Linked DNA regions of Homo sapiens. The protein of the gene in region 1 interacts with the protein of each later gene in a pairwise test. Each region holds a gene or a part of one and is shown in the gene's direction. Other genes may lie near its edges. The genes, in order: TSEN15, ASB12, AIF1L and PHOSPHO2.

The links.
Region 2: the proteins of TSEN15 (region 1) and ASB12 interact in binary tests that used the Homo sapiens proteins (3 or more experiments, as listed by UniProt).
Region 3: the proteins of TSEN15 (region 1) and AIF1L interact in binary tests that used the Homo sapiens proteins (3 or more experiments, as listed by UniProt).
Region 4: the proteins of TSEN15 (region 1) and PHOSPHO2 interact in binary tests that used the Homo sapiens proteins (3 or more experiments, as listed by UniProt).

The regions. Positions count from the first base shown.
Region 1 is NC_000001.11:184,046,830-184,054,755, forward strand, and holds the start of TSEN15 (tRNA-splicing endonuclease subunit Sen15), read left to right. Parts: upstream 1-4,900; 5' UTR 4,901-4,926; coding exon 4,927-5,061; intron 5,062-7,524; coding exon 7,525-7,606; intron 7,607-7,898; coding exon 7,899-7,926. UniProt on the Homo sapiens protein: Non-catalytic subunit of the tRNA-splicing endonuclease complex, a complex responsible for identification and cleavage of the splice sites in pre-tRNA. It cleaves pre-tRNA at the 5' and 3' splice sites to release the intron.
Region 2 is NC_000023.11:64,227,599-64,234,830, reverse strand, and holds the start of ASB12 (ankyrin repeat and SOCS box protein 12), read left to right. Parts: upstream 1-4,223; 5' UTR 4,224-4,368; intron 4,369-7,232. UniProt on the Homo sapiens protein: Probable substrate-recognition component of a SCF-like ECS (Elongin-Cullin-SOCS-box protein) E3 ubiquitin-protein ligase complex which mediates the ubiquitination and subsequent proteasomal degradation of target proteins.
Region 3 is NC_000009.12:131,106,512-131,113,542, forward strand, and holds part of AIF1L (allograft inflammatory factor 1-like), read left to right. Parts: intron 1-5,085; coding exon 5,086-5,152; intron 5,153-7,031. UniProt on the Homo sapiens protein: Actin-binding protein that promotes actin bundling. May neither bind calcium nor depend on calcium for function.
Region 4 is NC_000002.12:169,697,456-169,702,226, forward strand, and holds the end of PHOSPHO2 (pyridoxal phosphate phosphatase PHOSPHO2), read left to right. Parts: 5' UTR 1-76; intron 77-409; exon of another isoform or gene 410-527; intron 528-3,490; 5' UTR 3,491-3,516; coding exon 3,517-4,242; 3' UTR 4,243-4,253; downstream 4,254-4,771. UniProt on the Homo sapiens protein: Phosphatase that has high activity toward pyridoxal 5'-phosphate (PLP).

The DNA.
Region 1 (7,926 bases):
GCTGAGGGACATTTGGGTTGTTTCCACTTCTGGGCTATTATAAATACAGCTGCTATATTAGAATTTTAAACAAATCAAATATCTTATATACGCTTCTATAACTAACATTTTGACTATACATTAGGTTTTTAGTTTTTATGAGATTCATTCAAGTTGTTGATTGAAACTCTATGTGTGTTTTAAATAATTACTTTTTGAAAACTGTACTCAACCCACTAACCACTAACATAACTAAAATAACTAGTGTATTTCACAACCACTAACAGGTCCTGGCACTTCATTTAAAAATATTGCTCTAGAATATATACCTGGGATTAGAATTGTTGGATCATAGGATTTGTGCATCTTCCCTTTGGTCTACTTTTCTGCCAACTCTTGGCTTTTGTTGCTAATCTGATAGGTGTATTATGGTATCTTCTTGCCTCAATTTACATTTTCTCACTCAATCAATGTTGCTGAACATCAAGTTATGTTTGCTGGCCTTTTATGTCTTTTTTTCTGTTTACTTTCTTTTTTTTAACCTAAGGAGTGTTTTGTTTTGTTTCCTAATTGATTTTTAGGAGTTCTGTATATATTCTGGGTATCTTTTCTTTCAATTGTGTGTTACAGATGTCATTTTCCTTCCACTCTCTTAGTGTTGGAAATTCTTAACTGAGATACAGTTAAATTTACCAAATTTTTTCCATATTGTCAGGCCTCTGAGCCCAAGCTAAGCCATCATATTCCCCGTGACCTGCACATATACATCCAGATGGCCTGAAATAACTAAAGAATCACAAAAGAAGTGAAGATGGCCTCTTCCTGCCTTAACTGATGACATTACCTTGTGAAATTCCTTCTCCTGGCTCATCCTGGCTCAAAAGCTCCCCCACTGAGCACCTTGTGACCCCCCCCTCCCCGACCCCTGCCCGCCAGAGAACAACCCCCTTTGACTGTAATTTTCCTTTACCTACCCAAATCCTATAAAACGGCTCCACCCCTATTTCCCTTCGCTGACTCTATTTTCAGACTCAGCCCACCTGCACCCAGGTGGAATAAACAGCCTTGTTGCTCACACAAAGCCTGTTTGGTGGTGTCTTCACAGGGACATGAGTGAAGCATATGGTTTGTGCTTTTTGTGTCTTAAGAAATCACTCTTAAACTTGGGGTCATAAAATATTCTTTTATATTTTCTCCTAGAGATTTAAAAGTGTTTGCCTATACCGTGTAGCCAATCACCCCTTCTCTCCTTCCCTTCTTGCATCTGCCCACATGTGTATGGGTCTGTTGCCTGGCTCCCTATTTTGCTTCATTGGTTTTACCTATCCATGTGCCAATATCACATACTTGTAATTAGAGATCTTTGTAAGAATTTAAATTTTGTTTAAAACCTTATCTTTATAAGATATTTATATTTCAGAACTTTAACTTCGTAAGTTCTCTCCCTTTTGTTCACAAAAAGGGTCTTGGTTATTTTTGGCCCTTTATGCCCACATTTCAGAATCAGTTTATCAGGTATTAAGAAAATACTTTTTGGGATTTTAATTGGAATTGATAGAATCTGTAAATAACTTTGGAGGAAATTGCCATCTTTACAATATTGAATCATTCTCTTTCTTGAATCTTTCTCTGTTCTTGAAACACAGAGAATAGGAAATTGTGTGTTTTGTGTACAAAAAAAGGAACAAGATATATGTGAACCTCCTTACAACCAATGAATGAAAAGCTGATCCAGAATGCTAGGCTACATTTTTCAGCTTGGAATCACTGTCTCATACAATACTGTGTAAAAGCTTTTCTTCTTCTTTTTTAAATTTTCTTTCCACACTAGAGATTCACATCACAATTTAGTGTTCGCATTTCCTCGAGACTCTTACTGAATTAATATGTCTCTGGCTAGACATTACAGATTTTTGTAGGAATAAAATGATCTGGCTCAGGATATCATTGGGAAATGAGTTCAGCAAGTGCCAGATTACAATGAATTTGATTAAATCCAATATACTCAGGGGGGATTTCATTCGTTGTTTCTTATCTAGCTTTTTTTTCTCACTACTTTGGTTCTCTAATAGAGTGAACTATTGAAGCATTTACAAAATGAGAAATCCTCCAGGATACCAGACACTGAAACTCTCCTCTGTTCTCTAGTGGATTTCACTCTAGATTGTCACAATAGGTATTTTGATTCTGTACTTTAAATACTGGGTTGTCTAAGTGTTCCCAAATCCTTTGTGTTCATTCTTAGCCATTCACAATCACCAAGACCTATTTAAAAATTTACATTAACAGGGAAGCTAACAGACACTCCCTTTTCATTCTTCAACTCTTTTGAAAAGCACGTAATACTCATTCTTGAATGTATCATGCTTTTTCTAAGCAACAGTATTTAATCTATTTGCCAAAGGATGGCATTTATCTGTTGCTTTTTTGGTTTATGGTTCTTTCCATACCCCCAATTATTTTTTCTTGAACATAAGCTGAAATTCTTCCCCTGCAGATGTTTGAGGCTGGTTCATATAGTCCCTAATCCCATTGGATATCCTTACTGATTTATAAAAGTTTCCCTCTACTCAGATTAGCATCAAAATACTCTTAATGCTTTTAAAAATGCCATCATATGAACTGATTTGGATCTTTAGGAGTCAGAGAGATTTATTCACTTCCAATCACTTGAATTCGTGTCAGTGTTTCATGCTTCAATGACCCAATTAATTTCAGTGCCATTTTCTTCTTTCGGGCTTAGCAGCTGCTTTGTGGTGGCAAAGGTTCATTCAAATGTAATGTATTTGAGGGCAACATATGAATCTTCATGTGTGGCTTTACATTTCATTCAATAATAGATGCCCTTCTTTTCCCTGTGTATGATGTGTTATTTCTTTTGATGCATTCAAGCTTTTCTCTTTATTTTTTTGACTTTCAATAGTTTTATTACAATGTAGACTTCTTTGTGTTTATTTTAGTTGCTATGTATTTAGCATTTTGTACTAGTAAATGTGTTTTTCATCAAATTTGGGGAAATTCTGGCCACCACTCTTTCTTCAAAAATTTTTTCTGTCCCTTTTTTTTTCTACTTCTGTTGTTTACATGCATGTTGGATTGTCTGACATGTAGCAAATCTCTGTTGGTCTACTCACTTTTTAAAGATAATTTTTCTCTTTGTTGTTTACTTTTAATAATTTCTATTGCTCTATCTTCAAGTTCCCTACTTTTTCTTTTGTAATTTTTTTTGGCTGTTAAATTCACCCAGTGAATTTTTTATTTCTAAAATTATAATTTTCAATTTTCAGAATTTCCATTTGGTTTTAAAAATCTTTTTTTTTCTTTTTCTTTGCTGAGATTTTCTATTTGTCTCCTGAGATTTTCATTCATTGAAAACATGTTTTACTTCATTGAGGATAGTTATAATAGTCACTTTAAAATCCTTATCTGTCAGTTTCAATATCTGATTCATCTCAGGGTTGATCTCTAGAGTATGCGATCCATTTCCTTGAATTTCATATGTCAGATAGTTTTGGATAGTACTCTGGACTTTGTGAGTGTTAAGTGGAGAGTCTGGATTCTATTATTCTTCTCTGATGAGTGTTATTTCCTTTGTATTAGTAGGTAATTTTCCCGGCTAGATTTTAACTGAAAACTCTCTCCCTTTTGGAGACAGCTCTGGTCTCAGTTCAGATCTTTTGTTTTTAACTGAGCTGCTGTGATTCTGTTTTGGGTGGTTCAGGATCTCTCAGAGATGTGGGTTGACAGTTTGGGGATCCACTCTCTGACTCCTTCCTTGGGATTTCTTAATCTCTTCAGAATTCAAAATTTTCTGTCTTCACTTTTCTGCTTCCCCAGACAAGAATAACTGATAAGTTTTATACATGCATCCCTGGTACTGCTGAGCCTGACTTCTGGACTGCACTTTGCCCCAAGCTAAATGCCAAAGAGAGGAGAATTTTCTTGTGGAGTTCTTGATCTTCAAGCAAGCTTGCCCTTCCTACCAGTCTGCTGTTCACATTCCAGTATATTCAGCTTTTTGTATTGTGTCCAAGTGTAGTTCCTGATCTTCAAGCAAGCTTGCCCTTCCTACCAGTCCACTATTCACATTCCAGTATATTCAGCTTTTTGCATTGTGTCCAAATTGTTTTCTGCTGGGGGATGGTCCACTAGGGTCTTAGTCTATCATGGTTGAAAACAGAAGTTATGTCCTGCCTGGGACTTTGGATTTTGAGTCACCCTTGTCCTGGTCAATGCGATAGCCTCCTAACCAGTCTCTGTTTGTGTCCTTGCTCCCTCCAGTCTATCCTCAACATATCAGTCAGAGTGATCCTATGAAAACGTCCAGGAGCCTCCAATAGCTTCCCATTTCACTCACAGTAAATTAAAAAATACTTAAAATGTGCTACTCTGCCTGTTTGAAACTCCTCATCCTTGGCTTCCAGATCACATGCTTATGCTAGTTTGTATCCTACCTTTCTGAACACTCGTTCAGCAACTCGTGTTTCCTCTAATCCTGAAACGTGGGTCCACCCTGAAAGTATGGTTCTACTTTAAAGTTCTATGTCAGGGCACTGAGTAAGGCCTTTCCCGTCCCCAGCAATCAGAAACCAGGACCCCACTGCTGAAGGCAAAGAGGACGTATGTATCCCCCAACTTTCTCAGAGAGTTATCGGCAGCACTGACTTAAAGAGGATTAAGAGCTTCAGGGCGCAGGCTACTCTTTAATATTTTTCACGTTAGAATTTGCTCAGATTTGAATAAACGCAGAGCGAAACTAGAGAGCGTTCGCGCAGGTTCTAGCTACCTTGGTCAGAAGGAGGGGCTGATGCAACTTTCCTCCCAGTTTCTGAGCCCTCTCGCACTGCAGCTGCGAGCCTCGGGGAAGCGGAACCCACAGGCGCGCGCGCCGCTGCTTCTGGCCGGGCGCGGGTCGTGGTGCACCACGGGAGCGCCGCACCGGCCGGCATGGAGGAGCGCGGCGATTCCGAGCCGACCCCCGGCTGCAGCGGCCTGGGTCCGGGCGGTGTTCGCGGCTTTGGCGACGGCGGTGGAGCTCCTTCGTGGGCCCCTGAGGACGCCTGGATGGGCACTCACCCTAAGGTCAGGAGGCGCGAGAGGAGCAGGGCGCCGTCCAGGCCCCTAACCCAGGCAGAACACTCCCAGGCAGCTCTCTTTCTTTCTTCCTCAGTGGGAGACTGAGGACGCGCGCCACCCTCACCGAGGGGGACCGGTGTGCACAACTGCCAGCCTCAGGCAGCATCGGTTTTGTTTGTTTAAACAAGTTGCACTATCTCAATCCCCCAGCCAAAGCCATTTTGGAACTGAGAGCCAGACAGTAACTCCGCCCCTCTCAAGCCGGAGATCCCTAATAAGCGCTCCACTAGTTTTGCTGTCTAGGTAAATCCCCTTTGGGGGATAAATTTATTTAATCCTCACGGTAACCATGCAAGACAATTTGTGGGCGATGGATAAGATCTAGGGGTCCATAGTGATAAAGATTTAAGCACAGTCACGTTTACACTTAGCCTTGGGCCCAGAATGCATCTTTATTTTGAAAAGGTGCAGATTCCTAATATTTCAGATTTCTTCGAAAGTTTGAATAGGTTCTTGCTCAAAGCAGAGCTACTCACATTTTGCGTGTATTTTTCTAGATTAGCAGCAGGCGAGATCAAGATAGTCCTCTGCTTACTTCTGCTTGAGACATTACTGCCTTGTACAAGTACGGTTCCAAGCAGTGAATAGACAGTGAATGGAGATGTGGGTTTTGTAAGAATCTCAAAAACTAGTCTCTACGGTACTTTAACAGAATTGCACTCTTCTGCTAGAGAGCAATAATTCATAATCATCTAAAAACAGCCAAGAAAAAATTTGAAGGTATAAGTTTGAAGAGTTAACCTTTTTCAGCTTCTCTTGCTTAATTTTATCTTCCTACTCTGTCCCCTTCATCCTCCCAAAAGGTGAGAAAAAGAAACAATAGCATGGAAATATTATTTAGTGCCCTTTTAGGGAAACAATAGCATGGAGAGGCAGCATATTGGTTAGGCGCATGAACTCAAAATCAGACTCAGTTTAAATCCTGATTCTGTCACTTATCAACCTTGTGATTTGGGACAAGTTGCTTGATCTTATTATGCCTTAGTTTCCTCACCTGAAAAATGGGGATATTAATAGTCCATACTTACTTATACGGTTGTTACAGGATTAAATTAATGAATATTTGTAAGCCATTCAACATACAGAAAGCACTATATAAGTACTTAATAAGCGAAACACCAGTAACAACTTTTTAAGACTTTATCTAGATTTGGTGGTGTTATTCAGTTTATATACTTGTAGATTGTTTTCTTTTTCAAGTTAATGGCTGTATACACCTTGACCATCAAATCTCCCCTTTTGATTTCTCTTCTTGAAGGATCAAATTAATTTTTAAAAGAAAAAGAACAAGTAATAAAATAATAGGGGGTATTTGTTTTTCCAATTTCACCTTTCTGTTAATTTAAAAATTATGTAGTTTCATCCAGTAAAATGGTACCAGATTTATTATCCCCAAACACACTTTTATTTTATTATTCTCCTGCTTAGAAATCCTCAGTGTTTCCATACTGATAAAATCACATGTTTAGCTTGACCACCAAAGCCTTGTAACCTGGCTCAAAATTATGTTTTGGGTGTTATTTTCAAAACATGTTTGAAGTCGACAACTAATTAACCCCTGTCCTCCTGAACCTGTACAGTTACAGTGAAGCTGATGGGAGAATGTGACTTTAGACCTGTCCCCATGCAGGTCTGCTAATAATTCAACTCAGCATTAGCCCTGCATATCCACCTAGTCGCTGGCATAGCTGGGCAGCCTCAGAATTCTCCTGCAGGTGTAGGCCCCTGAAAAGTATTCCCCTTATGCTGACCAGTAGTCTGAAAGAAGCAGCTTTCTCTAGTTCCTTGTCAATTCCTTTTAAAAAATCTACTCTTAAAGTGAGAAAGAGTGGGTAGAGAGGCTAGGACTGATACTCTAGCAGATTCTCTCCATATACAAATAAGAGGCTAGGGAAATACACAGTACCCACTAACATGTCCCATCACAAGTTTTATTAAAAAGGTTTCTCTATTGCTGGCAGATAGGTTTCTTTACAGGCCCTTGAATGTATGTGGCTTAATCCCACCTTTGTGTAATTACCTGCAGTATTACTCTACTTCTCCACTTACTTAAATCATAATGTTCTTCAGTGCTCAACTTGTATCCCATCCCACCTCTGCTATAAATCTTTCACCAGTCCCTCTGAGTAGAGCTCTTCTGACCTGCTGTGTCATGTTTTTTATTCCATTTACATGGTTTTTAATCACTTACAGTCATATATTGTTATTTGCCTAACAATTTTAAGTGTGCATGTATTTAACAATTGCAAGTTCTTTAGAGACAGAGATAAGATCTTATATTGCCTTTTAACTTCCACTATACCTAGAAGAATTTTATAGATTATATATGCTTGATGACCACTTGATGATTGGAAGAAAATATTAAATAATTTTTTCTTCTCAATTTGACAATTATATTTTAATTTTCAGTATCTAGAAATGATGGAATTAGATATAGGAGATGCCACCCAAGTTTATGTAGCGTTCTTGGTTTACCTGGACCTCATGGAAAGTAAGTTGTTTGTTTATATTGTTTTGTTATTGGGACTGTGGTAGAGATTTGGGGGGTTGGATTGGGATATAGCATTCTTAACATAATAAGCAATCTTTTATGCATTTGCTGTTAATTTTGCAATTTATTTATTTACATTGGGAATTACTGAGTAACAGAAGCTACTAGAAAAGCAAAGACAGGAGGTAGTGTTACGAGTGATATTTGCTCAGCTGAGTATTAGGTAGAAGTTTGGAGTTTTTATTTTTTGTATTTAATAAACATTATTGTCCATTCAATGATGCTCTTTCAGGCAAAAGCTGGCATGAAGTAAACTGTGT
Region 2 (7,232 bases), on another chromosome or scaffold:
ACAAATTCAACAACTTAGAAAAAACGGACCAATTTTTCAAAAACCACAAACTATCAAAACTTTAAAAGAGGTGAAATAGGTTATATGAATAATCCTATACCCATTAAAGAAATGCAGTTTATTATTTAAAGTTTTCGGAAAAAGAAATCTCTGGGTCCAGGCAGTTTCACTGGACAATTCTACCAAAAATGTAAAGAAGAATTCACACCAATTTTACACAATTTCTTCCAGAAATAGAAAAGGAGAGAACATTTCCCAACTCATTTTATGAGGTCATTATTACTCTGATACTAAAACCAAAGACAGAACAAAAAAAGAAAACTACAAACCAATATTTCTCATCAAGTCAGATACAAAATTCCTCACCAAAAGTATTAGCAAACTGAATCCCACAATGCATAAAAAAAGAGTTATATGCCATTACCAAATGCGGATCATTCCAAGAATGCAAGTCTGGTTCAACATTTGAAACTAACAAACATAATCCACCAGTCAAGAGATTAAAGAAAGCAAAATGAAATGATCACATCAGCTGATGGAGAAAAAAAAGCATTTAACAAAATTTAACATTCATTCCTGATAAACTCAGAAAACTATGAAGAGAATTTCATAAGCTTGATAAAGGGCATCTTTGAAACATGTACAATTAACATCATACCTAATTGTGAACGACTGAATGCTAATTCTCTAAGACTGGGAAAAGGCACACATGTCCACTCTCACAACTCTTATTCAACATAGTCTTGGATGTTCTGGCTATTGTATTAAGGCAAATAAAACAAATAAGGCATACAGATTGGAAAAGGAAAAATAAAATTGCCCTCATTTGCAGATGGCATGAATGGCTATGTAGAAAATCCCAATAAACTTACCAAAAAACAAAAACAAAAGTAAACAATCAACAACTACAAAATCTTTCCTGTGACTAAGGAGTTCAGTTAGGATACAAGATCAACACACACACAAAAAAACGCATTTCTTTTTTTAAAATTTAATTTAATTTTACTTTAAGTTCCAGGATACATGTGCAGAACATGCAGGTTTGTTACATGTGCCATGATGGTTTGCTGCACCTATCAACCCATTATCTAGGTTTGAAACCCCACAAGCATTAGATATTTGTCCTCATTCTCTCCCTCCCCTTGCCCCCTACCTCCCAGCAGGCCCCAGTGTGTGTTGTCCCCCTCCCCGTGTCCATATGTTCTCACTGTTCAACTCCCACTTATGAGTGAGAATCTGCAATGTTTGGTTTTCTGCTCCTGTGTTAGTTTGCTGAGGATTTGGCTTCGAGCTTCATCCATGTCCCTGCAAAGGACATGATCTCACTCTTTTTTATGGCTGCATAGTATTCCATGGTGTATATGTACCACATTTTATTTATCCAGTCTATCATTGATGGGCATCTGTGTTGGTTCCATGTCTTTTCTATTGCAAATAGTGCTGCAATAAACATACATGTGCATGTGAACCAATTGCATTTCTAAGAAGAAACAAACATATGGAACAAGAAGAACCAAATATATGGAAACCCAAATCAAAATCCAATGTCATTTGCACCACAGAAATTGAAATATTTAGGTATATTCTTAACAAAATATACAATCCATATGCTGAAAAATCAGAAATGCTGATAAAAGAAATCAAAGAAGACCTAAATAAATGTAAAAACATATCATGTGCATACACTGGAAGACTCAGTATAACAAAGCACTCTGATATATATAACCAAACTGATATATAGATTTAACACAATTTCTATCAAAATCTCAAAGAGGTTTTTTGTAGGCATAGACAAGCTGGTTCTAAAATTTATATAAAGAGGTGCAGATACTAAAATAGCTAAAACAATCTTGAAATGAAATAGTAAAGCTAAAGGAGTCAATCTACTCTACTATAAAACGACAATGATAAAGACCTGTACACAGATGTTCATAGCAGCTTTATTCATAGTAGACAGATAGTAAATAGAACCCACATGTCCTTCAATCGGTCAATAATTAAACAAATTATGCTACATACCTACTATAAATCACATTTAGCAATAAAAATAAACAAACTTGATACATACAGCAACTTGAATTAATTTCAAGGACATGCTGAGTGAAAAACCTAATTCCAAATGTTTATATCATGTATGGTTTCATTCATATAATTTTGAAATTATAGATATGAAGAACAGATTAGAGGTTTCCAGGGGTTAGGTACCAAGGTGGGAAGAATGGAAAGGAAGTAGGAAGGAAGTAGATATGGCTATAAAAGGCAATGTGAAATATCCTAATTGGGATAGAACTATTCTGTATATTGTCTAAGGTGGTATACACAAGCTACATGTAATAAAATTGTATAGAATTAAATGTACGCACACAGACACAAAAAAGTACAAGTAAACCTGGGGAGATTTAAATAAGATAAGTGGATTGTATCAATGCCAATGTCATACTTGAGATATTGTACTATAGTATTGCAGGATGTTAGCATTGGGAGAAACTCAGTAAAGTGTACTTGGAATCTGTATTAATTCCACAACCACATGTGAATTACAATTATCTCAACAAAAACTTACATTAAAAAATCCTGCAAATCTTTTTTTCAAGAATAACACCTTACTCTGTCATCTTTAGCATCATAATAGCTTATTTGTTGACTGCTAATTGGGCTTGCATGAGGCCTCAGACAAAGTCCCCTGGCTCAAGCTAAGCTGAAACTGGTATGCTTTTTGATGTTTCTGATCTTCAGAGTCACTGATCACACTAGGACATTCCCACATTTTCCAGAGGAGTTATCTGGTCTTCTGTGAGCTCCCTGGCACTATCAATGTGCAAGCAGATTGCTTGACCACTTCATGAGTGAGGTAGACAAGACTGGGGAGGGAACTAAATAGATAACAGATTGAAAGAAATAGTTGAAGGAGCTGGGGCTGTTTTCCCTGAAACAAGGTGACATGGAGGATATAATATCTGGGTTCAGATCCCTAGAGGGCTGTTTTGGGGCAGAAAAAGTGAGAGCTGAGTTTTTGACAAAGTTTCCAGTGCTGGACACATTAAAGTAATGGTGATGCTTTAGGGTGAGGATAGTGGGAGGTTGTGGGCATTTTCTTCAGGCTGAGCCTGGTGGGTCAGTGGACTGGGAAGGTCTTTATAAATGACCAAGGCCTTCTTAAGCTTTAGAAAAGCTGAGTGAGAACACATTCTGTTATGGAGGCTTCTCCTTCCTACCTTCCTCCTCACTCTGAGCAGTGAAGGAAGGGGAGGGGCAACGAGTTGGAGGATATGCAGAGAGGCTCAGTTCAGAAGAGAAAAAAGAAGAGATTCCTCAGGGATATAGAACTAGAAATACCATTTGACCCAGCAATCCCATTACTGGGTATATACCCAAAGGATTATAAATCATGCAGCTGTAAAGACACATGCACACGTATGTTTACTGCAGCACTGTTCACAATAGCAAAGACTTGGAACCAAGCCAAATGTCCAACAATGATAGACTGGATTAAGAAAATGTGGCACATATACACCATGGAATACTACGCAGCCATAAAAAATGATGAGTTCATGTCCTTTGTAGGGACATGGATGAAGCTGGAAACCATCATTCTCAGCAAACTATCGCAAGGACAAAAAACCAAACACTGCATGTTCTCACTCATAGGTGGGAATTGAACAATGAGAACACATGGACACAGGAAGGGGAACATCACACACCGGGGCCTGTTGTGGGGTGGGGGGAGGTGGGAGGGATAGCATTTGGAGATATACCTAATGTTAAATGACGAGTTACTGGGTGCAGCATACCAACATGGCACATGTATACATATGTAACTAACCTGCACGTTGTGCACATGTACCCTAAAACTTAAAGTATAATTAGAAAAAAAAAAAAGAGAAAAAAAAAGTGTGCTAGGCTGAGGCTGGACCTTCTCAGTGCCCCCTGGTGGAGGTGTGGGAACAACCGCAGCTCAGGGGCCTCACCCTGTCTCCCATTTGAGTGGCAGGGAGGGATATAGGAGGATAGGCTGGGAGCAGGAACCCTAGCCTCACCAGGCACCTGTCTATCTGTCAGTCAGTCCTTCCAGGACTTCCCCATGGGAGAGCCCCTCCTCTTACTGAAATCGCTCCCAGAATGGCACTGGTAAGATAACACGGCCTGGGAAGAGGGGGTGGAGGGTAGCCTAAAATTAGCCCCTTGGACCAAGACTAGGGACTGACTCCTAGTCTTTCAACGGCATTGTTAACAGTGGGAAACGAGAGCCCCAGCTGCTCCAGGTTGGGGCCGTGGGGGCTCCCTAAGGAGGGGACACCAGGGCCCCAATGTTTCACAGAGGGGCGGGGGGCAGCGACCCTGGGCAGCATGGCCTCAGGCTGAAGCCCGGTGAGTACCTGGAGCCTAGGACCGGTTTGAGAAGAGTGACCACTGCGGGCCCACAGACCTGTGATCACCCACTTCCCGTTGTAGGCTGTTTCCGCTGGGTCTGGGACGTGGTGGGAGTTGGGGGAGGCGCTTGGAAGGTCGTTAGGGCAACCCACCAGGAGGAGGGAGGAGGGATATAATGCCAGCTCCCTGCCTTGTGTGTCCCAAGAGGATATGTCTGCCTAGGACCTCGGGTCTAAACAGACCTGCTTCTTGAGAGCAATTGTGATTATACACTACAGGAAGTGTGGAGATTTGTCTTTGTGTCCCTGTGTGGTGTTGGCTAGTCTGTGTGTGTGGGTGCCTTAGAGTGGGTTTAAGGGCATAAGGGCAGAACTCGTAAGGGTGAGAGAAGGAAGATGAGGCTTAAAAACGTTCTGCTAATGCCTGAAGGAATGCTCTAGGATGCACGGAAACCAACCACTTTCCTGTGGGAGTACTTAACCTGGATTGACAGACACCAAGAGGGCCTTAGATAGAATTCAAGGGGTCCAGAAACTTGGATGAATAGACAATTACCTTTTTTCCCCCTAACCTCTAACTAAAATGTACTATTTCCTTCAAGGATGAATGCAGGTATCAAATGGCAGTAGCATAACCAGTTCATGTAATTTGGTTACCAGAAGAAACCACAGATATTTCATATCATATTACAGTTGTGGCAGAGATCTTGAAATGTCATTTATTACCACTTAGAAATTATTACTAGACCTTTTTATTTAATGTGTTACTAAAGAACATCTCTTACTATATCATGCATTTAAAAATATTTTGACAGTCACATTTTAATATAATTGGTTTCCTTTAATTTTATGTGTTTTATGTAGCAAAAACCATTCTGAAAGGTGTTTACAGACTTTGCTAGTTTGTCACAGGAACCAATATCACAAAAAAAAAGGTTTAAAACTCCTACATCTTTAGGATCAGGAAGGAGCTACGTGCACATAACAGGCACATAGTAACTCTTTGATTAATAAACTACAGCAAAGTGAGGTAAGACAACAGGCTAGCTGGATTTCCTTGTCCTTATCTAATGGAGGCACGATTCACTCCAGTGCCACAGCCAGCTGGAGAGCATGGCTTGGTCTCCCTCTGGAGGCTCATTATATGAGCTCTGCTGTGGGCTCTTGGTATGAACCTTAGCAAGAACTTCAGCACTTCCCTCTGCCACTCCCTGCCAATTATCTGCCCAGATCCCAGTCGCCAAAATAAAATATTAAGGAGGGAATTCCTACCAGTTATCAGAATAAATTATTTGTAAAGGAACCTTCCATTACCGAAGACCCTGGAATTCAGCATGACACTCAAAAGCTGAAGATCCTGGGAGCTGCAATGTGACTGCTGGAGTCAAGGGAGGGGGGTATGTGTTTGTGTTTCATCTTGTAATAGAAAGAACAGGAGGAGGAGTAGAGAAACCTGGATTCTATTTCTGACTCTGCTTTTGCCTTGATGTAAGGTATATGGAAAACCCCTTACCCTCTCTGGACTCAGTTTCCTCCATCCAAAAAATGGGGATAATATTACCTATTTTGTTACATGAAATTGCTTTGAAAAGCACAGGATTATAAGTGTGTTCTGAGTTCTTGTTAATGAGACAACTAACAATAACAACCATGTGACCTTACCAAAGTCCCTGCTCTGCTCTGAACCTTGGTTTCCCCATCTGTAAATTGAAAAAATTAAATTAAATGATCTACAAGGTCCCTTGCAGCTCTGAGGTTCTAGAACATTAAGTAGGGAGCAATAGCCTTAGAAAATGGAGACATAAGTAACAATCATCATCATAGTAAAAATAGTTACTGAGAACTACTTTCAGGCACTATTCTAAGCACTTACTATGTACTAACTCATTTAATCCTAAGAACCCTCCAAGGCAGATACTATTGTTATTTTGTCTTTACAGATGAAGAAATGGGCACAGAGAGATTAAGTGACCTGCCCCAGGTCACACAGCTACTAAATGCTAGAGCTGGGGTAGAAGCAGAACTCCCATGTTTTGCCACTACCACATAAGGCCTCTTTATCTGCACTAGGGCAAACAAAGACCCATATAGAAGTTACAATACAGTGTGATGACTGCTATAGTGCTATAACACAGACTCTGCAGGAATTAACTTGGCAGAAGGAGTTGCATGTGGCAGAAAGAAACATGGTGTATATGGAGAGCCATCACTTTTTGTCTCTTGTCACTGGACCTCAGGATATAAGTCAAGGAGTAGTAGGAAGTGAGGCTGGAGAGATTGGCCAAGATTTATTCATGAAGGACCTCTGAGCTGGGCTAAAGTATTTGGGCTGTAGCTGGAAAGAAAGGGGAGCCATTAAGGTATTTAAAACAGAGGATTGGTAGAGATCAGATATGTATTTTTAAATTACCACTTTAGCAACAATGTGGAGAAAATATTGAAAAGAGAAACTACCTATGAGACCACTATAACTGCTGAGGCAAAAGGCAGTGGGGGCCTAGATGAAGCATAGTCAATGAGAATGGTCCCTGAAGAGCACAGATGGTCTGGAGAAGTCTTTAGTAGGTAAAATCCACAGGACTTGATGGGATTTTATGAGAGTGGGATAAAGAGGCAAGAGCATTGACAGGAGTCTTGGTTTTTGGTTTGGTTGACCAGGTAGATGGTGAGGAAATGATATATGGATCAAGTTTAGTCATGGTGGTAGTGGTGGTGATGTGATACTGCTGTCTTTGAAGTGCTTGAAGAAACTCAGTGGATACATGCCTGGAGCTAAAGAGAGAGCTGGGGGCTCGGATAGAGACGCTTAAAATAATCAGAATAAAGGTGAGAGCGACTGGAGAGAAGAGGTTGGAGAAGAGA
Region 3 (7,031 bases), on another chromosome or scaffold:
GTGGCTCACACCTATAATCCTAGCACTTTGGGAGGCCGAGGCAGGCAGATCACTTGAGCCCAGGAGTTTAAGACCAGCCTGGGCAACAGAGGGAGACCCCATCTCTACAAAAAATACAAACATTAGCTGGGTGTGGTGGCATACACCCGTAGTTCTAGCTGCTCTGGAGGGCTGAGGTGGGAGGATTGTTTGAGCCCAGGCAGGTCGAGGCTGCAGTGAGCTGTGATCGTGCCAACAAAGAATAAATAGGGTCGGCCGCATTGAGAAGGTGACATTCGGCCGCATTGAGAAGGTGACATTGAGGCTGGGTGTGGTGGCTCACGCCTGTGATGCCAGGAATTTGGGAGGCCGAGGCAGTCGGATCACCTGAGGTCAGGAATTTGAGACCGAACTGCTCCATATGGTGAAACCGCATCTCTACTAAAACAAAAATTAGCTGGACGTGTTGGTGCGCACCTGTAGTCCCAGCTACTGGGGAGGCTGAGGCAGGAGAATTGCTTGAACTCGGGAGGGGGAAGTTGCAGTGAGCTGAGATCGCGCCACTGCACTCCAGCCTGGCGACAGAGTGAGACTCCGTCCCAAAAAACAAAAATAAAACAAAACAAAAAAGACAAGGTGACATTGAGCAAAGGCTTGAAGTTGGTGAGGGAGAGAACCACGCAGATCTGTGGACTCCAGGCAGGGTGCACAGCTAGTGCAGGGTGCAGCCCAGGGCAATCTTCCCAACCACTGCTGCCGTTCATGCTGTGCACGTGGCCTTGCTCTTCATCCCTGCCTGGTTGGTCTGTGTCTGTCTGTGTGCAATTTGTCTCTAAGGCCAGGGACCATGTCCTTCCACTTGCACCCATCCACCTACAGAGTGGCCCAAGTAAAACTGGATCTCTAGGGCTGGTCGGTCCAGGCTGAGGCAGGATTTCTGGTCAACCAGACCCCAGGGGCTGGGACAGCCCCTCCAAATCTCTCCCCAGAGGTTCCCAGATGTTGGTGCTCTTGTGCCTCCCCAGGAAGGTTCTCTAGTTCTTGGTAAAGTGAAGGAAATGCAGGGTCACTGTGGTGAGTTGGACCTAGGCTGAATGGATTCCATTTAAACATTCAGAGATGGTGAACTTCCTACTTTTATGAAATGTTCTTTTCTGAACTCATGGCAACAGTCAATGGCCATTGTTTAAAAAGTCTTTACTTGGCAAAATAAAAAGTTGGCACTCGTATATTAGTGCGCCCCTCTGCCCCGCCTTTAAAAATGTTTCATGTCTGCGTGACCCCAAAGTCTGGGAATCACTGATCTAATATGTCCCTTCACTGGGCAGATATGGGATCTGGGACCCTGGGAGGTGCCTGGTTTGCTCACAGTCACAGACAAAAGTTAATTGTCCTCCTTTTGGGCAGAGGATGGGGTGAGGGAGCAGTGCCGAAGAGCTATGAGAGGGAGCCAAGAGGAAAGGAAGTCCTCGACAGAGCCAACTAGGAGGAGGGCGGCCTCCCAGGCTGCCGAAGAAGGATCCAGCGTCAGCTAAGTGGAGGCGGGGCCGTGCCCAGTGCATTGCAATGAGGCCTGGAGTGAGGCTGTGGCCAAGCCAGCAAGACCCCATAGGCCCTGGGACTGCCCTCTGCCCAGGTGCAGGAGGACACAGGTCCTGGAGTCAGATAGACCCAGGTTCGAAACCAACCTTCCTTAGCTGTCTGTGAACCTTTTTTTTTTTTTTTTTTTTTTTGAGATGGAGTCTGTGGCCCGGGCTGGAATGCAGTGGCACAATCTCGGCTCCCGGCAACCTCCACTTCCCAGGTGCAAGTGATTCTCCTGCCTCAGCCTCCCAAGTAGCTGGGATTACAGGCACACGCCCCCATGCCCGGCTAATTTTTGGACTTTTAGTAGAGACAGGGTTTCACCATGTTGGCCAGGCTGTTCTTGAGCTCCTGACCTCAAGGGATTTGCTCACCTCGGCCTCCCAAAGTGCTGGGATTACAGACGTGAGCCACTCACTGCGTTTGGCCTGTCTATGGACTTTAGATGTGGTATTTAACCCCTCTCATCCTCATGTTTTAACTTGTAAAATGGGAATAATAGTGGCTGTGAGGATTTAGTGAGATAGCACAGTGTCTGCTACAGCCAATGTTTTACCAAAAGCTACAGGACAGCCAGACCCCTCTCCCAACCCAGTGAGGGAAGCCCTGTTGCCAGGTAGGTTTCTCCTGTGGTCAAGGGGTGCTGAGTTAATGTGGAGAAATTTGAGCCATAGAAGAGGCCATATTCTGCCTCATACTCATAATCTTATCTGTTGCTCATTGAGAGCTGAACTATGAGCCCAGTGCCCAAGGAGTGGGTACTATTGAACCTATTTTAGAGCTAGTAAAAAGGGAGACTGAGATCCAAACCCAGATTGCTTTATAGTCAGTTAGTTCTTGTCATCCTCTATTCTGCTTGAAGCCTCTTAGGAGTTTGCAACAATAGACTAGGAAGGTAGTGAGTTCTCTGTCCTAAGAGATATGTAAGAACAGACTTGGCCATCATGTATTAGGAAGTAGGTCAAGTGATTAATGTGGGTGACATTGCACATCATTTTAAACACCAGCTTTCTGTAATTTCAGGATAAGGACCTTGTCATATTCACCATGGTCTCCTCTGCTCCCTTGATGCTAGCACAGTGAGTGCTGTGTGCACTGTGTCCCCCCAGAATGTTGAATGAGTGAATGAATGAATGAATGAATGAATGAAGGAGCAATGTCCATGTCCAGTGAGCTCAGTAATGAAGAATGGAAGGTCCACTGGCCGGGCTCAGTGGCTCACACCTGTAATCCCAGCACTTTGGGAGGTCGAGGTGGGCGGATCACATGAGGCCAGGAGTTCAAGACCAGCCTGGCCAACATGGTAAAATCCCGTCTCTACTAAAAATACAAAAATTAGCCGAGCATGGTGGCACACTCCTGTAGTCCCAGCTACTTGGGAGGCTGAGGCACAAGAATCATTTGAACCTGAGAGGCAGAGGTTGCAGTGAGCCAACATTGCGCCACTGGACTCCAGCCTGGGTGACAAGAGCGAGACTCCGTCTCAAAAAAACAAAAACAAAAACAAAAAAAGAATGGAAGCTCCAAAGAAGAGGGGTTATTTGCAGAGTTCGAGTGGTAGGAGGGGAACAGGCCCTGTGCTTCCCCATCTGAATACAGGTTCCAGGGCTGCTGAAAGATTAGCCGCAAGATACATAAGTTACCTGGCACTGTATCTGGCAGGTGTTCCCTCATTGGTCGCTTTTTGCTGTAAGGTCAGAGACCAGGCCAGATGAACACCTGCAATCTGCCCACCTTTAAAGAATGTAGGGGCTAAGGATGCAGGCTCCAAATGAGATGGAGCCGAGTTGAAGCTCTGGCTTATGAGCCTCAGTTTCCTCACCTGCAAAATGGGTATAATAATAGTAGCTACTGGCCGGGCGCCGTGGCTCACACCTGTAATCCCAGCACTTTGGGAGGCCGAGGCGGGCAGATCACTTGAGTCCAGGAGTTTGGGACCAGCCTGGGCAACAGAGTGAAACCCTGTCTCTACAAAAAATACAAAAATAAGCCAGCCGTGGTGTGGCGCCCATCTGTAGTCCCAGCTACTCAGGAGGCTGAGGTGGGAGGATCACTTGAGATCGGGAGGCGGAGGTTACAGTGAGCTGAGATTGCATCACTGCATTCCAGCCTGGATGACAGAGCAAGACCCTGTTTCAAAATAATAATAACAATAGCTCCCTCTTGGGACTCCTAGGAGATGTGAAGAGATCACATAGGTAAGGGCTTCACCCTGGAGGCCATTGTTAGTGTCCAATCCTCCCCACCCTGCCCATCTGGTCCTGAAAGGACTCATTTGAGTCTCTCCAAGCATCTGAAGGGAAGGCAGGCCAGAGATTAAAACCCCCATTTTACAGGTGAGGAAACAGGTGAGAGGGTAAGTGTACAGTCATTTTCCCGTTAGAGCAGAGACGACGAATTCACACTCTCACTGGATTTCTTTTTTCTTTTCTTTTTTTTTTTTTTTTAAGATGGAGTCTCTCTCTGTCTCCCAGGCTGGAGTACAGTGGCATGATCTCAGCTCACTGCAACCTCCACCTCCCAGGTTTAAGCTATTCTCCTGCCTCAGCCTCCCAAGTAGCTGGGATCACAGGTGCCCACCTCTATGCCCAACTAATTTTTGTATTTTTATAGAGACGGGGTTTCACTATGTTGGCCAGGCTGGTCTCGAGCCCCTGACCTCAGGTGATCGGCCCACCTTGGCCTCCCAAAATGCTGGGATTACAGGCGTGAACCGCCGCACCTGGCCTCACTGGATTTCTATACAAACTCAAGAAGCAGATCATGATTCTCATTTGGTAGATAAGGCAATAGAAGTGTGGGGAGGGCCGGGCGCGGTGGCTCACACCTGTAATCCCAGCACTTTGGGAGTCTGAGGCGGAGGGGTGGGAGCGGGGGGATCAACTGAGGTCAGGAGTTCGAGACCAGCCTGGCCAACATGGTGAAACCCCGTCTCTACTAAAAATACAAAAATTAGCTGGGCATGGTGGCAGGCGCCTGTAATCCCAGCTACTGGGGAGGCTGAGGCAGGAGAATCGCTTGAACCCAGGAGGTGGAGGTTGCAGTGAGCTGAGATCGCGCCATTGCACACCAGCCTGGGGGACAAGAGCAAGACTTCTTAAAAAAAAAAAAAAAAAAGTGCACGGAGGAATGAATGAGCTCAGGATCACATTCCTAAGAAGTTAATGATGGAACCAGGGGCTTGTCTTTGGAGCTCACAGCTTCTCGGATCTGAAGCTGGGGTGTCTTGGGGGAGGGGCACGGGTCCCAGCATTGGTAATGTAGCTGCTGGCTGGAGGGCTTAGTCACCCGTAGTGAACCCTCTGGGGCCTCCCCAAGCTGCTGGGCAAACTTCCTACCCACAGGGTGGCCAGTGCAGATCTGCCTCCAAGGGGCGACAGGAAGCCGGGGTGAACAAGGGACAAACTGGGTCTGGTCGCACCTGGTTACCCGATAGGAGGGAAGGCCCCCGGACAGTGGGCCCATGTGTGGGTGACTTCTGTCCCCAGTCCCTTGCTCAGCACTGTCCTCTCACCTCTGTAGGAGTTTCTGTGTGACCAGAAGTACAGTGATGAAGAGAACCTTCCAGAAAAGCTCACAGCCTTCAAAGGTAAGCTGGGGCGGGCTGCCCTGCATTTATTCCTGGGGGAGGTGGGCTGGCCCCTCATCCTTGCACACAGGACCCCTCAGCCCCACAGGACTAGGCTGTGGCCCTGTTTTGTCCAGAATGCCCTTCTTCCTGGAGAAGGCTTGGAGACAGGGACCCCCTGAGAGGTGGGGAGAGGCCCCTCCACCTGCCTCCCTGCCCCTGCGGGCCCCGTCACCCCTCGCCTGCAGCCCGGTCCTGGCCCTGCCCCTCTCTCTCCCCTCACTGCCCACGGGGCTCAGGCTGGTTCCCGTCCGCCGCTGCCCAGGCCCCGTCACTCCCGGGCCCCGCACACAATCAGCTCTTTGTGAGCAAGCCTTGCCTCTCCCCCTCCCCAGCAGAGCGTCTCAGGAGCCCCTGCGGAGAATGGACGTTTGTGTCACCGCAGTGGGGCAGGGGGGCAGAGTTTCTGCCCATTGAAACCCGGCAGCACGGGATGAAAAGAAAGCAGGGCCTGGGAGCCGGCGCGGGGAGAGGGGCAGCATAAAGGTCCCTCTGTTTGGGGCCCTGGCGCTTGGTTCCCAGCCAGCACCTCGAAAGGAGAGGAGCCGGGCACATAGGGGGCAGCGCAGACCCACCTTCCCTGCCAGGGGAGGCACTTAGGCGCAGGAGCCCTGGGCTGTCATGGAAAATATCCTGGAGGTTGCATTCCCCTCCAAAGTGTTTGCAGTGTGAGCATCCTCCCGGCTCCAGGGCAAAGAACTTGGCCAAGTGTTCCTCAAATCACTTCCAGTTGTCCTTAGGCTGGACATCTAGGGCTAATCATATTAATAACAGCTGGCATTTGTTGGACGTCGGCCTGTGTGAAGCACTTCTCGTGCGGCGTGGCGAGCTCCCCACATCACCCCAATCGGCCTGGAGGAAGATGGCGCACTTGTTAATGTGCAGATGGAGAAACTCGGGCTTGGAGGGCGGGGTTGTTGGCATGGGGACACATAGCTCGCCTAGGGCAGAGTTGGGACTTGAACTCATGTCGGTCTGGCTCCAAAGCCCCTGCTCTCAACTGTTACGCTATGATGCTTTTTACATGAAGAAGAGAGAAGGGAAATAGTAAAAGACACTCCTGACCCCACCCCATCCCAGCCACCTGTAGGAGAGCTGTGAAAAAGAGAGCAGTCTATTCCCTTCTGTCTGCATACCAGCGTGGCCACTCCCAGGGGTGGCTCTGGGAGGAGGCACGGGTCTCAGGGCTCTGGCACCCTTTCTACTTGTCTTCACTGGAATGTTGGGCCAGACAGGAAGTTACATCATTCACTCATTTGTTCTCCAAATGCGCACCTGTACATGTGCCAGGACCATTCCAGGCCAGGGGCACCATGGTGAACGTAAAAGGCAGCTCCCACCCGGGAGCCTGTGTTCTCGCTCGGGGGGCGGTGTGAGAGGTGGTGGGAGACTAAACAGAGAGCCGGGAAATACAAGGTTAGCAGACTGTGGTAGGTGCTTCAGTGAGAAATGAGGGAGGGAGGACAGGAGTGCTCAGCTGTGGGGAGGGGGTGCAATTTTGAAAGGGTGGGGAGGCCAGGCACGGTGGCTCACACCTGTAATCCCAGCACTTTGGGAGGCCGAGGTGGGTGGATCACCTGAGGTCGGGAGTCCAAGACCAGCCCGGCCAACATGGCGAAACCCCATCTCTATTAAAAATACAAAAATTAGCTGTATGTGGTGGTGGGTGCCTGTAATGCCAGCTACTCGGGAGGCTGAGACAGGAGGATTGCTTGAACCCAGGAGGCAGAGGTTGCAGTGAGCTGAGATCAAGCCACTGCACTCAAGCCTTGGTGACAGAATGAGACTCCATCTCAAAAAAAAAAAAAAAAAAAAAAAGCATAATGGTTAAGAACGGGGG
Region 4 (4,771 bases), on another chromosome or scaffold:
TAAAACTGAAGATTGTCATGATTGTTTATCCTAATCCCAATGCTGAAGTAAGATTGTCTTGGAAATACTAAGTTGGGTAAGTATTTTTTAAAGGTTTATGTTGAGTGGTGAGAAAATACTAACAGAAAAAGATGGGAAAATTTTAAAAGTGCACTTTCAGATCAGCAGGGGAACTATGTTACCTCAGTCTCATGCTATTTTGAGGCTAATAATTCAGGAATTTCAGTAATTTGTGGCTAATTAAGTTTAGGTTTGAGGCAGTTTTCAAACAACAGTGAGTTACATTTGAAATTTGTTTTAATTATAAATTCAGAATTCTCAAAAAGCATATTTAATTTAAAATGTGCCTAGTTACAGTACTACTGTGATTGTCAATTATGCCTTATTATTTATTACATTGTTTCTGTAGGAAAGTGAATTCTGCATTTAAATTTCAGGGAACCAGTCAGAAGCATCTGGATTAGGCATTTAGTGATACAAGGATCCAGAATAACAAAAACTATGTACCAGCCACATTCACACAACAGGTGATACCCCTATAGGTTAATTATTCTCTAGATATTCTAAATTAAGAGACACAGAATACTTAGTCTTATGTGAGTCAAGAGCTCTATTCTGTCTTCACTACTGGGTGTCTACTGTTATAAACTGGAGAATATGTGTGGTTAAATGCCATGTTTTTCATTTTTAATTGATCTTTTTCTTATTGCTGTGGTTCTTTGCCTTTTTAGGATTTCTTGTAAAAACCTCAAAATGGTTATAAAGAGTATCACAGATGTGGTGTTATGGTTAGTGTGTACTTTGAAAGTAATGAATGTTTTTATGTAATTAAATATCTTTCTGCCAAAATTACCTACTTAGTGTTATATTTTTAAACTAATGAGTAGTCATTAAATATTCTATTTTTTAACACTAGAATTTGGTACTTAAAAGCATGAAGTCTGGAATCAAATCAACCTAAGATTCCAGCTCTGGCACTTTACTAACACCTAACCACTTCAAGATCCAGCTTATATATCTTTAAGATGAGGATAATAATGATTCCTACTTAATAGGGTTGTGACAATTAAATGGTATGATATTGCAAAGTTTTTAGGTCAGTGCCTGACATATAATGACTCTCAAAATTATTATTATTATCTGTTTACACACATTAATTATATCCTTTTCTGGATATTCTATATAGTTATTTTTTATAAATAATGTTTATTCTTACCATCAGTTGACCAGCTTATTCTTTCCTTTTCTCTTGAGATTTATAATTAATCACCTTCATTATATTCTAATGAAAACAGAGACATAAGTAATTGTCACACCACAAACAGTATGATTACTCAGGTGTATTCAAATTATTTGGCACCCCAGAGCTAAACTATCTAGAGCAGCTATAAATAAACATGTGAAAACTCTTAACCAAGTTACTTCTAGTTTGGAAGAATTAAATTGGCCTCCAGTTCTCAGGTAATTTGTTTAGAATATCATATAGAGTGTCAGCAATCATTTACTTATAATATTGATATTTAGAAATTGATTTTAAGCTAAATACTTTTTTAATTTTTTTGATTTCCACCTTTTAAGTTCAGGGGTACATGTGCAGGATGTGTAGATTTGTTACATAGGTAAGTGTGTGCCCTGATGGTTTGCTGCACAGATCATCACATCACCTAGGTATTGAGCCCAGCATCCACTAGCTGTTTTCCTGATGCTCTGCCTCCTCCCACCCCCACCCTCTGACAGGTCCCAGGGTATGTTATTCCCTTCCACGTGTTCTCATGATTCAGCTCCCACTTATAAGTGAGAACACATGGTGTTTGGTTTTTCTTGTTGTTGTTCCTGTGTTAGTTTGCTGAGGATAATGGCTTCCAGATCCATCCATGTCCCTGTAAAGGACATCATCTCATTCCTTTTTATAGCTGCATAATATTCCATGGTGTATAAGTACCTCATTTTCTTTATCCAGTCTGTCATTGATGGGCATTTAGGTTGATCCCATGTCTTTGCTATTGTGAACAGTGCTGCAGTGAACATACGCTTGCATGTATCTTTATAATAGAATGATTTACATTCCTTTGGGTATATACCCAGTAATGGGATTACTGGGTCAAGTGGTATTTCTGCCTCTACGTCTTTGAGGAATCACCACACTGTCTTCCACGATGGTTGAACTAATTTAATTTACACTCCTACCAACAGTGTAAAAGTGTTCCTTTTTCTCCACAACCTTGCCAGCATCTGTTATTTTTTGGCTTTTTAATAATAGCCATTCTGACTAGTATAAGATGGTATCTCGTTGTGGCTTTAGTTTGCATTTCTCTAATGATCAGTGATGTTGAGCTTTTTTTTCATATATTTCTTGGGCACATGTATTGTCTTCTTTCCAGAATTGTCTGTTTGTGTCTTTGCCCACTTCTTAATGGGGCTGTTTGTTTTTTCTTGTAAATTTGTTTAAGTTCCTTATCAAGGAACTACATGATTCTTATCAAAAAGGATTTTGGACAGATTTTATGGGCAGAGTCTTTAACTATTTGGGAGCTAAAGGTGTAAGAGAAGATAAAATGAAAAGAGCAGTGACATCGATGCCTTTCACTTCAGGGATGGTGGAACTTTTCAACTTTATAATAGTTGCTGGATATTAGACCTTTGTCAGATGGATAAATTGCAAAAATTTTCTCCCATTCTCTAAGTTGTCTGTTTACTCTGTTGATAGTTTCTTTTGCTGTGCAGAAGCTCTTTAGTTTAATTAGATACCATTTGTCAATTTTTGCTGTTGTTGCATTTGCTTTTGGCATCTTTGTCATGAAACCTTTGCCTTTGCTGTGTCCTGAATTGTATTGCCTAGATTTTCTTCTAGGTTTTTTATAGTGTTGGGTTTTACACTTAAGTCTTTAATCCACCTTGAGTTGATTTTTGTATATGGTGTTAAGGAAGGGGTCCAGTTTGTTTTCTGCATATGGCTAGCCAGTTATCCCAGCACCATTTATTAAATAGGGAATCCTTTCCCCATTGCTTGTTTTTGTTACTAAATACCTTTTCTTAAAAAGTTATTTTACATCTTCCAAGATTTCATGTTATGTTAAATTTGTTCAGAATTTTGGTTAGTACACAGAGAGTCCTTTATACATGATCTGTTATTTAATATGAGGATTGTAAATATTTTAATCTAATAAAATAAGTGTGGTTTGATTGATAATTTAATGATAGTAAGAAATGCTTTTTTTTCTTTCTTATAAATTCTATAAGAAACACACCTCCAGGAACACAATAATACTATGAATGTCCTTTTTATATATTTTGTTTTCCACTTAAAATACTCAAATACGAACTTTGCTTCTTAGAGAAAAGTGGTTAGGTAGTGGTCTTGAAGTGCTTAATTACTTTGTTTATATTCCTCCCTTTAGCAGATTAACATTTAGTTATGTTTATTAAATAAGTATTTTAGCTAGATATGTAAACAGAGTTTGTTTAGGGAATAATATTTCTTCTTTTTCAGGGTAATCCAAATCTATTTCTGGAACCATGAAAATTTTGCTAGTTTTTGACTTTGACAATACAATCATAGATGACAATAGTGACACTTGGATTGTACAATGTGCTCCCAACAAAAAGCTTCCTATTGAACTACGTGATTCTTATCGAAAAGGATTTTGGACAGAATTTATGGGCAGAGTCTTTAAGTATTTGGGAGATAAGGGTGTAAGAGAACATGAAATGAAAAGAGCAGTGACATCATTGCCTTTCACTCCAGGGATGGTGGAACTCTTCAACTTTATAAGAAAGAATAAGGATAAATTTGACTGCATTATTATTTCAGATTCAAATTCGGTCTTCATAGATTGGGTTTTAGAAGCTGCCAGTTTTCATGACATATTTGATAAAGTGTTTACAAATCCAGCAGCTTTTAATAGCAATGGTCATCTCACTGTTGAAAATTATCATACTCATTCTTGCAATAGATGCCCAAAGAATCTTTGCAAAAAGGTAGTTTTGATAGAATTTGTAGATAAACAGTTACAACAGGGAGTGAATTATACACAAATTGTTTATATTGGTGATGGTGGAAATGATGTCTGTCCAGTCACCTTTTTAAAGAATGATGATGTTGCCATGCCACGGAAAGGATATACCTTACAGAAAACTCTTTCCAGAATGTCTCAAAATCTTGAGCCTATGGAATATTCTGTTGTAGTTTGGTCCTCAGGTGTTGATATAATTTCTCATTTACAATTTCTAATAAAGGATTAATATGTCAGCAATTGAAAAGTGTATCACTTAAGATTAGGTTCAGCAGCATAAAACTAAAACCCCAAATACCAGAGGCTTAAAAAAAAAAAAGAGAGAGAATTTTTTTTTCCTCTCACATGAAAGAATTCCAGAGGTAAGTATTTCAGGGTTGCTGTGTTAGTCTACCAACCTCAGCACTTGGCATTCAACCCATGATCCAAGGTTGCTGGTGAAGCTCTAGCCCTCACAGCAGCACTCTGGCCAGCAAGAAAGAGGGCAGTGAGAAAGTTACATCCCCTGTCTAAAGAAATTTCCCAGAAGTTGTACCCAACACTTCTATTTAAATGTCACTGGCCAAACTTAGTCATAATGCCTTACTTGTAAATAGCAAGGAAGGATGGAAAATATAGCTTTCATTCCAGGTAGTCATGTGCCCAGGAAAAGTTGGGGAAAAAAGTACAGAATTGAGTTAGGTACAGCTAGTGGTCTCCACTAAAGGTGGTTGATAGTTTATATTTTTTAATTTATTCCTGGAGCAAGTAAGCATATT